Regions from separate parts of the Homo sapiens genome. Here region 2 is linked to region 1. Evidence: fine-mapped expression QTL. A gene starts in region 1. The other region holds a variant in brackets. All regions are shown on one strand. Distances are from middle to middle.

What was found. PIP is the estimated chance that this variant, and not a neighbour inherited with it, causes the effect.
Region 2: its variant is the best candidate, but not a certain one, in a credible set for the expression of TSSK6 in whole blood (TOPMed, PIP 0.62).

The regions. Positions count from the first base shown.
Region 1 is chr19:19,513,050-19,518,418 of GRCh38, forward strand. TSSK6 (testis specific serine kinase 6) reads right to left here and starts at 2,499. Exons shown (of 1, transcript NM_032037.4): 1 at 1,170-2,499. The coding sequence starts at 2,378. The coding sequence ends at 1,557. NDUFA13 (NADH:ubiquinone oxidoreductase subunit A13) reads left to right here and starts at 3,176. Exons shown (of 5, transcript NM_015965.7): 1 at 3,176-3,283. The coding sequence starts at 3,190. RefSeq lists a silencer at 2,745-2,864 and an enhancer at 3,075-3,354.
Region 2 is chr19:19,288,208-19,293,576 of GRCh38, forward strand. All of the region lies in intron 8 of SUGP1 (SURP and G-patch domain containing 1), which reads right to left. Among named protein-coding and RNA genes, the nearest start is that of TM6SF2, 18 kb to the left of the region's middle. The variant G/A (reference allele first, on the strand shown) is at 2,229.

The sequences.
Region 1 (5,369 bases):
TTTGAGACGGAGTTTCGCTCTTGTTGCCCACGGTGGACTGCAGTGACACGATCTCGGCTCACTGCAACCTCCCCCTCCCGGGTTCAAGCGATTCTTCCGCCTCAGCCTCCGAGTAGCTGAGATTACAGGCGCCCGCCCCCGTGCCCAGCTAAATTTTTTTTGTATTTTTAGTAGAGACGGGGTTTCACTATATTGGCCAGGCTGGTCTCGAACTCCTGACCTCAGGTGATCCACCCGCCTTGGCCTCCCGAAGTGCTGGGATTACAGGCGTGAGCACCGCGCCCGGGGTTTTTCTTTTTCTTTCTTTTTTCTTTTCCTTTTTTTTTTTTTTTTTTTTTTTTAAGAGGCAGGGTCCAGGGCGCGTTGGCTCACGCCTGTAATCCCAACACTTTGAGAGGCCGAGGCGGGTGGATCACGAAGTCAGGAGTTCAAGACCAGCCTGGCCAAGATGGTGAAACCCCGTCTCTACTAAAAATACAAAAATTAGCCGGGTGGGGGGACACGCGCCTGTAGTCCCAGCTACTTGGGAGGCTAAGGCGGGAGAATCGCTTGAACCCGGGAGGCGGAGGTTGCAGTGAGCCGAGATCGTGCCACTGCACTCCAGCTTGGGCGACAGAGCGAGACTCTGTCTCAAAAAACAAACAAACAAACAAACAAACAAACAAGAGATGAGGTCTCGGCTGTGATGCCCAGGCTGTTTTCGAACTCCTGACCTCAAGATATCTGCCCGCTTCGGACTCGCAGTGTTGGGGTTACAGGCGTGAGCCACCGCGCCTGGCCCTTGGCTCTGCCTTTTGGCAAGTGACATCCATGTGGGCCTCAGTTTCCTTATCTATAAACTCCTACTTTACGTGGAGACAGGCCACCCTCGCCCCACCCCTGGCTGTTCCATTCTTAAAAGATGTGGACGGCGAGGCGCTGGGGTCCACTTGCTTCCCAGCCCATCATCACAGCGACATCACGACCCGGGGACAACAAAGCTCCTTTGAGTTTGCCCATACTGGGGAGCTCAAAAGGTCCAGGCTCGAATCCTCCCGACTCCCTTTTGAGTCTTGGAGCAATAACCTCAACATGCGTGACTCTAAAATAGGGTACCCGCGCCTGCCTTCCCCGGATGGAGCGATCGCTTCTCCACTAGTCCGCAAATGGGGGCCACCGTTAGAGCCAGGTGCGAGGAACAGCGAGTTTATTGCAGGTTCCAACCGGGAACCTGGCACCCACGGCTGGTTGGGAAGGGACGCCCTCCGCGCAGAGGCTGAGAGTTCCGCGCAGGCGCAATGCTTCCGTCCCCTCTGGTCTCGCCCTCTCGGGGCCTGGTCGCAGGGAATCGCGGATGCGCATGCGCCTCCAGCTCCCGGGATCGCGGGGAACGTGGATTCCGAACAAGGGCAACTGCGGACTCCCCCGTGGGAAGAAAGGGAGGGAAGCGGAAGGGAAAAAGCGCATGTGCAGCAGCACGCGGCAGCTTCGCATATTCCCTCGAAGCGCGCCTCTTGCGCGTGCGCCGCCCTGGCCCAGTGCCCTTGGCTGCAGGAATGGCTGGAACCACCCGGCTTCTAGCCGGAGTCCCCGGCGCGCAGCCAGCAGTTGCGCGCTACCTGGCCCGCGGAGGGCCTGGCGGACGGGCTGAACTGCAGCAGCTCGGCGATCAGGGCCTTGCAGCGCTCGGACAGCTCGAGGCCTTCGGGATAGAGCACGCCGCGTTTCTGGCGCCGGGGCAGGCCGGCGATGTCCGAGTCGTCGAAGGGCATGCACCCGGTGACCATGACGTAGAGCACGACGCCCATGCTCCACACATCGTACTTCTTGGGGTCGTAGGGGATGCCCAGGAGCACCTCGGGTGACGCGTAGGCGGCTGAGCCGCAGTAGGTGGTGCTCAGGTCTGGGTAGCCATGGGCCTGGCGGCCGAAGCCGAAGTCGGTGAGCTTGACGCGGCGCTCGTCCGGGCTCAGCAGCACGTTTTCGCACTTGAGGTCGCGGTGCACCAGGTGATGATCGTGCAGGTAGCGCACGGCGCCGGCGATCTGCGCAAAGAGGTCGCGCGCCTGAACTCCGGGGATGCGCCCGTTGCGCTGCACGGCTTGCAGCAGGTCGGTGGCGGCCGCTTCCATCACGATGTACAGTTTCCCGTTGCACACCTCGATGAACTCGAAGACGTGCACGATGTGCGGGTGTCGCACGCCCCGCAGGATGGACAGCTCTCGCGGCAGGAACTTGTTGACGAAGTCCGGGGGCGCTCGCCGCCGGTCCACCACCTTGATGGCCACGGTACCCTTGTACTTCTTGGATGTGGCCACCTTCACCTTGGAGTAGCTGCCCTCTCCAATTGTGCGGCCCAGCTTATAACCGAGTTCGCTCAGAAGTTTGTCTCCCGACATGGTGGCGCCTAGGGCGCACGGGGGGCAGGAGGCGGCTGCTGTCGGGGGGCGGCCGGACTCCAATCTCGGGTCTAAGCCATGGCGCTTGGCACCTACACCCCCGCACCCCCATGTGCCCACTGCCAGACATTGGCCGCTGTTGTGCCTTTTATTGCCCCGTAACAATTTTTGCCTTGTGAAGTGACTGCGGGCGTCACTCCGCCTTAGGGTGGGGGTCCGGGACCCCGCCCCGGGGCCACCCTAGCCTCCCTGCTTTGTGACTCATAATCATCCTGAATGGTCAGTTTCCGATGAGAGGCCACTAGCAAGGGATACCCATCACCACCAGGGAGCAGAATCCGTTCCAGGGATTGGGGTGAGTCCGACTTCGAGCAGCAGCTGCCCCCCAACATCATGTACCCAGCCCGTGACTACGTGGAGCCCTGGGCTTCGCGTAGAGTCCCTAGACGGGGCGAAAACGGGAAAAGGGGCCTTAACTGGGGCACCTGGCTCCTTTGAGAGCTCGGAGTTTCTGACTGGCCTGCGCAACACCCCAGAGGCAAGGTGAACGCGAGGGCCTATAATGCAAGAACCAAGGCGAGTCACGCCCTGTCTGGGCAAAAGAGGAGTAAAGACCCCTCAGCTGCAGCCCGGCAGCGCATTCCTACCCAGGGTCCGCCGCCAGAGCTTTCCCGCGCGGTCGGATAGTTACACTACTGTCCGGGACTTCCTAGCCGTGCCGCGGACCATCTCAAGTGCTTCCGCCACACTCATCATGGCGGTGGCAGTAAGTCACTTCCGCCCGGGACCGGAAGTGTGGGATACTGCGAGTATGGCGGCGTCAAAGGTGAAGCAGGACATGCCTCCGCCGGGGGGCTATGGGCCCATCGACTACAAACGGAACTTGCCGCGTCGAGGACTGTCGGGTCAGTATCACTCTGCGCCGGGGTCTCAGAGTCTGGGCACTCGGGGCTCGGGGGCGGGGTTCCGGGGACACAGGCGGGCCTCAGTTTTCCCGGCGGTGTGACCGGAGGCGGAGCCCGGGGATCCATCATAGCTTCTGTAATAACGCTAAGTGCTGCAGTTTGTTGAGGTCTTTCCCAGCTCCTCTTCCTTCTCGTAACAGCCCAGGAAATCGGTCCCTCTAGTTATTTACGTTTTACAGTGGGTTAAACTGAGTCATAGCCTGTGCTCTGGCCCTCAGCCACCCTTGGATTTCTAAGATGGGGAAACTGAGGCCCAAAGAAGGCCGCGGCTCCCCAAGGCAAAGCTGAGGCCGCAACCCGGAACCTGGAGGGAATTTACAAGATGTTCTATGCAGTGGTTCCCTGCTGGCAGCCCCCGCCTGCATGGTGTCACAGGAATCCATATTCTTTAAATTTTCAATTTTTTTTTTTTGAGACGGAGTTTTGCTCTTGTTGCCCAGGCTGGAGTGCAATGGCGCCATCTCGGCTCACCGCAACCTCCGCCTCCTGGGTTCAAGCGATTCTCTTGCCTCAGCCTCCTGAGTAGCTGGGATTACAGGCATGTGCCACAACGCCTGGCTAACTTTGTGTTTTTAGTAGAGACGGGGTTTCTCCATGTTGGTCAGGGTGGTCTCGAACTCCCAACCTCGGATGATCCGCCCACCTCGGCCTCCCAAAGTGCTGGGATTACAGGCGTGAGCCACCATGCCCGGCGTAAAGTTTTCAAATGTTTAAGTAACACGTTAAATTTTGTTATCGGGCTCAGCACAGAAAATTGAAAAAGAGAACTTAAAAGGCGCCCATACTCAGTCCCCAGGTTAACAGACAAATAGAAACTTTTAAACGTAATCTAAGAGTGAATACATACATTTCTTTTTTTTTTTTTAAGACGGTATGGTTCTGTTGCCTGGGCTGGAGTGATTTCTTGGCAACCTCCGCCTCCTGGGCTCAAGCCATCCTCCCACCCCAGCCTCCTGAGAAGCTGGGATTACAAGCATGCGCCCAGCTTTCTGTATTTTCTATAGAGATGGGATCTCGCCATCTTGCCCAGGCTGGTCTCGAAGTCCTGGGCTCAAGTGATCCACCCACCTCGGCTTCCCAAAGTGATGGGACTATCGGCATGAGCTACCGTGCTCGGCAGAATGCATGTCTCTTAACAAATCAAACTTTACATTTAAATTACATGTTATGCACATTATTCCTCAATTTTAACACACACACAAAAATGAGCATGGTAATTAAAAACGTAATAATTCAGACAGTAGAAAAATCAGTGTGAGGTGAAAAGTCCTCCCCAGCCCCTTCTTGGTTTTTTTATTTTTTATTTCTACTTTTTGTAGAGACAGGGTGCAGCTATGTTGACCAGGCTGGTCTCAAACTCCTGGGCTCAAGTGATCCTCCAGCCTCAGCCTCCCAAAGTGCTGGAATTACAGGCATGAGCCACCGCGGCCAACCTCCTCTTGTTTTTCTTGTATCCCAGAACTGAGATTGGCAGACTTTTTCTATAAAAGGGACAGATGACAAGTATTTTGGGTTTGGCTGGCCAGAAAGTTTCAGTTACTGAGACAACCATTTACAAATGGAAAGTGTTCTTAGCCTGGGGGCTCTACAAAAACAGATTGCCTGTGAGCCAGGTGGCTCATGCCTGTAATCCCCACACTTTGGGAGGCTGAAGCGGGAGGATGGCTTGAGCCCAGGAGTTTGTGACCAGCCTGGGCAACATAGTGAGACCCCCACCTCTACCAAAAATTAAAAAAAAAAAAAAGAGGCTTCAGGCTAGATCTGGCCCATGAGTGCTGTCCCAGAACACATTGGAGGAATATAATGCATTCTATTTCCTCATTTTTCTTTTTTCTTTTCTTTCTTTCTTTTTTATTTTTTGAGACAGAGTCTCATTCTGTCACCCAGGCTAGAGTGCAGTGGCCCGATCTTGGCTCACTGCAACCTCCACCTCCTGGGTTCAAGCAATTCTCCTGTCTCAGCCTCCCGAGTAGCTGGGAGTACAGTTGGATGCCACCACATCCGGCTAATTTTTGTATTTTTAGTA
Region 2 (5,369 bases), 220 kb before region 1:
TAGGCTGGAGTGCAGTGCCACGATCATAGCTCACTGCAGCCTCAAATTCCTGGACTCGTGTTCCTCCTGCCTCTCAGCCTCTTGAGTAGCTAGAGCTATAGATGCACACCACACAGCCTGGCTAATTTTTCCTATGATTTTCTTAGTAATATTTTCTTTCTTCTAGCTTATTTTATTATAAGAATATAGTACATAATACATATAACATATAAAAAGCATGTTAATCAACTGTTTATGTTACCAATAAGGCTTCCGGTCAACAGTAGGCTATTAGTAGTTAAGTTTTTGGGGAGTCAAAAGTTACATGTAGAGGCTGAGGTGGGCAGACCACTTGAGCTCAGTTTTGAAACCAGCCTGGGCAATGTGGTGAAACCCTGTCTCTACAAAAAATTAAAGAATTAGCCAGGCGTGCTGGTACAGGGCTATAGTCCCAAGCTACTTGGGAGCCTAAGGTGGAAGGATAGCTTGAGCTCAAGAGGTTGAGGCTGCAGTGAGCTGTGATTATACCACTGCACTCCAGCCTGGGAAACAGAGTGAGACCCTGCCTCAAAAAAAAAGTTTATATTCAGATTTTCTCTTTTTTTTTCTTTTTTTGTGAGACGGAGTCTTGCTCTGTTACCTGGGCTGGAGTGCAGTGGCGCGATCTCAGCTCACTGCAACCTCCACCTCCCGAGTTCAAGCGATTCTCCTGCCTCAGCCTCCTGAGTAGCTGGGATTACAGGCATGTGCCACCATGCCCGGCTAATTTTTGTATTTTTAGTAGAGACAGAGTTTCACCATGTTGGTCAGGCTGGTCTCGGACTCCTGACCTTGTGATCTGTCCACCTCAGCCTTCCAAAGTGCTGGGATTACAGGTGTGAGCCACCAAACCCGGCCTATATTCAGATTTTCAACTGCACAGGGCTTGGTGTCCCAACCCCCATGTTGTTCAAGGGACAGCTGTATACCCCGTTGCTCCCAGGCTACAAACCTGTAAAGTAACACAGTAAGTATTTATGTATCTAAACATAAAAAAGGTACAGTAAAAATACTGTACTATAATCTTATAACAATTTTAATAATGACCACTGTCATATATGCAGTCCATCACTGACCAAAATGGTGTCATACAGGGCCGGGCATGGTGGCTCACACCTGTAATCCCAGCACTTTGGGAGGCCGAGGCGGGGAGATTACTTGAGGTCAGGAGTTTGAGACCAGCCTAGCCTGCATGGTGAAATCCCATTTCTACTAAAAATACAAAAATTAGCTGGGCGTGGGCTGGGCATGGTGGCTCACGCCTGTAATCCTAGCACTTTGGGAGGCTGAGGCAGGTGGATCATCTGAGGTCAGGAGTTCAAGATCAGTCTGGCCAACTTGGTGAAACCTCGTCTCTACTAAAACCAAAAAAATTAGCAGGGTGTGGTTGCAGGCGCCTGTAGTCCCAGCTACTCGGGAGACTGAGGCAGGAGGATCGCTTGAACCTGGGAGGTAGAGGTTGCAATGAGCCGAGATAGTGCCACAGCACTCCAGCCTGGGCGACAGAGGGAGACTCTGCCTCAAAAAAAACAAAAAACAAAAAACAATAACAAAAACAAAAAAGAATGAATGAAGAAAGAGGTTCCGGACAGCAGAACTCATGGAGGTTCCTGGAGGGTGGCGTGCCCAGGGAGGGCATGGAAGCTCCACGCCCCTTCCCCCATACGTCGCCCTATGTGACTCTTCATCTGAAAAAATCCCTCAAGTCAAGAATACAAGGAACTAAGAGGGAGTTAGGAAGAATATAAGGGCCATGTACTCGGCCCCCAACCCCTAATCTCGGTGGGTGTGGGTGATAGGAAATTTATGTCTGGAGATCTAAGAGCAACATGAACTTCTGCTCTGCTTCTCTTCTAGAATTTTAAGAAGGTGGTAGACTGGCAGATGTGACCCGCCATCACACAAGAAGAATGGAAGAGATGGTGGCACACTGAGACTAGTTGGAGACCCCTAGGAAATTACCCTTCAGTTTCCTGTGGCTCCCAAGTGATGGAGGAAGGCTGAAAGTTCTTGCGGGCAAGGAGAGAGGGAAGGAGCAGAAACTGGTTATGGTACATAAATCTATACAAGGAGAACTGAGTGTGCTTGTGTTATTATTTTTAATGTTTAGATAATCAATGTACAAACATTCTTGCTAAGTCAGGCACGGTGGCTCACACCTGTAATCCCAGCACTTGGGAGGCGGAAGCAAGTGGATCATCTGAGGCCAG[G/A]AGTGCGAGACCAGCCTGGCCAACGTGGCAAAACCCCGTCTCTACTAAAAATATAAAAATTAGCCGGGCATGGTGGTGGGCACCTATAATCCCAGCTACTCGGGAGGCTGAGGCAGGAGAATCACTTGAACCTGGTAGGCAGAGGTTGCAGTAAGCCAAGATTGTGCCACTGCACTCCAGCCCGGATAAAAGAGCAAGACTCTGTCTCAAAGGGAAAAAACAAAAAACAAAAAAAACTCTTTGCTATATATACACAGTTTTGTTATTTTTATTTTTAAGGAAAACTGTATTTCTGAAAGTAGGGTTTGAAGAGAAGTTTATTATAGATTACTGACAAAGCTAATCTATCAGTTAATATATATAACAATCATTTATTTATTTATTTATTTTTAAAAGAAAGAGGCTGGGTGTGGTGGCTCACGCCAGTAATCCCAGCACTTTGGGAGGCTGAGGTGGGCGGATCACAAGGTCAGGAGCTCGAGACCAGCCTGGCCAACATGGTGAAACCCCGTCTCTACTAAAAATACAAAAATTAGCTGGGCGTGGGGGCGCCCACCTGTAATCCCAGCTACTCGGGAGGCTGGGGCAGGAGAATTGCTTGAACCCGGGAGGTAGAGGTTGCAGTGAGACAAGATCATGCCACTGCACTCCAGCCTGGGTGACAGAGTGAGACTCCATCTCAAAAACAAACAAACAAAAAAATAAGAAAGAAAGAAGATCTAAAACCAATAACCTAAGCGTACACCTTAGTGAGCTAGAAAAAGAAGATCAAACTAAATCCAAAGCTAACAGAAGAAAATAGTAAAGTTTAGAGTGGAGATAAGAAAATGAGGACTATAAATACAATGGAGAAAAATCTATGAAACCACAAGTTGGTTCTTTGAAAAGATCAACAAAAGTGACAAACCTTTTAGTTAAACTAAGAAAAAAATGAGAGAAGACTCAATTACTAAAATCAGAAATGAAGGAGGGGCTGTAACTAACGACTGAAAATAAGACATAAGTTAAAAGGACCATAAGAAAATACAATAAACTGTGCCCCAACAAATTAGATAGATGAAGTGAACAAATTCCTAGAAACACAAACCATCAAAACACAAGAAGAAATAGAAAATCTGAATAGACAAGTAAATCAGGATTCGAAAAAACCTTCCAACAAAAAAAGGCCAAGAGGCTGGGCACGGTGGCTCACACCTGTAATCCCAGCAATTTGGGAGGCCGAAGCGGGTGGATCACGAGGTCAGGAGTTCAAGACCATCCTGGCTAACACAGTGAAACCCCGTCTCTACTAAAAAAAAAATACAAAAAATTAGCCAGGCTTGGTGGCGGCGCCTGTAGTCCTAGCTACTCAGGAGGCTGAGGCAGAAGAATGGCGTGAACCTGGGAGGCGGAGCTTGCAGTGAGCCGAGATCACGCCACTGCACTCCAGCCTGGGTGACAGAGTGAGACTCTGTCACACACACACACACACACACACACACACACACACACACACACAAAAGGGCCAAGAATTAGATAGCTTCACTGGTAAAGCAAACATTTAAAAGAAGAAATAAGCCGCGTGCAGTGATTCATGCCTGTAATCCCAGTGCTTTGGGAGGCTGAGGTGGGCAGATCACTTGAGGTCAAGCATTCAAGACCAGCCTGGCCAACATGGCAAAACCCCATCTCTACTAATAATACAAAAATTAGCCAGGTATGGTGGCAGGTGCCTGTAATCCCAGCTACTCGGGAGGCTGACGTAGGAGAATTGCTTGAACCTGGGAGGTGGAGGTTGCAGGGAGCCGAGATTGCACGACTGCACTCCAGCCAGGGTGACAGAGTGAGACTCCGTCTCAAAAAAAAAAAAAAAAAAGAAAGAATACCAATTCTCCTCAAACTCTTCCAAAAACACAAAAGAGAGAACATTTCTAAACTTACTCTATGGGGCTAGGATTAGCCTGATACCCAAGGCAGACAAAGATACTACAAAGAAAGAAAAATAGGCCAGGTGTGGTGGCTCACGCCTGTAATCCCAGAACTTTAGGAGGCCAACATGGGCAGATCACTTGAGGCCAGGAGTTCAAGACCAGCCTGGCCAACATGGTGAAACCCTGTCTCTACTAAAAATACAAAAATTAGCCGGGTGTGGTGGTGGAAGAATTGCTTGAACCCAGGAGGTGGAGATTGCAGTAAGCTGAGATCGCGCTACTGCACTCCAGCCTGGGCAACAAAGAGCAAAACTCCATTTCAAAAAAAAAGAAAAAGAAAGAAAGAAAAATACAATTGAATATTCCTATGAATACAGATGGAGAAATCCTCAATAAAATACTAGGAAACCAAATTCAGCAGCTTATGAAAGGATTATACACCATGACCAAGTGGGATTTATCCCCGCAATGCAAGGATGGCTCAACATTTGAAAATCAATCCATGTAATACACCAAATTAATAGAATGAAGGAAAGTAACCACACGATGATTTTATGTATTTATTTACTTTTTTTTTTTGAGACTCAGTCTCACTCTGTTGCCCAGGCTGGAGTGCAGTTGCTCAATCTCGGCTCACTGCAACCTCTGCCTCCCAGGTTCAAGAGATTCTCCTGCTTCAGCCTCCCAAGTAGCTGGGATTACAGGCGTGTGCCACCACACCCAGCTAATTTTTGAATTTTTTTTGGTAGAGACGGGGTTTCACCATGTTGGCCAGGCTGGTCTTGAATTCCCGGCCTCAAGTAATCTGCCCACCTCAGTCTCCCAAAGTGCTGGGATTACAGGCGTGAGTCACCGTGCCTGGCCTGTTTTAACTGATGCAGAAAAAGCATCTGACAAAAACTAAAACATTTTCATGATAAAAACGCTCAATAAACTAGGAACAGAAGTGAACTTCCAGACAGGCCTGGTGGCTCACGCCTGTAATCCCAGCACTTTGGGAGGCCAAGGCAGGCGGATCACCCGAGGTCAGGAGTTCGAGACCAGCCTGGCCAACATGGTGAAACCCTGTCTCTACCAAAAACACAAAAATTGGCCAGTCGTGGTGGTGGGCACCTGTAGTCCCAGGTACTAGGGAGGCTGAGGCAGGAGAATTGCTTGAACCCGGGAGGCAGAGGTTGCAGTGAGCTGAGATCACACCACTCCAGCCTGCACATCAGAGAAAGACTCTGTC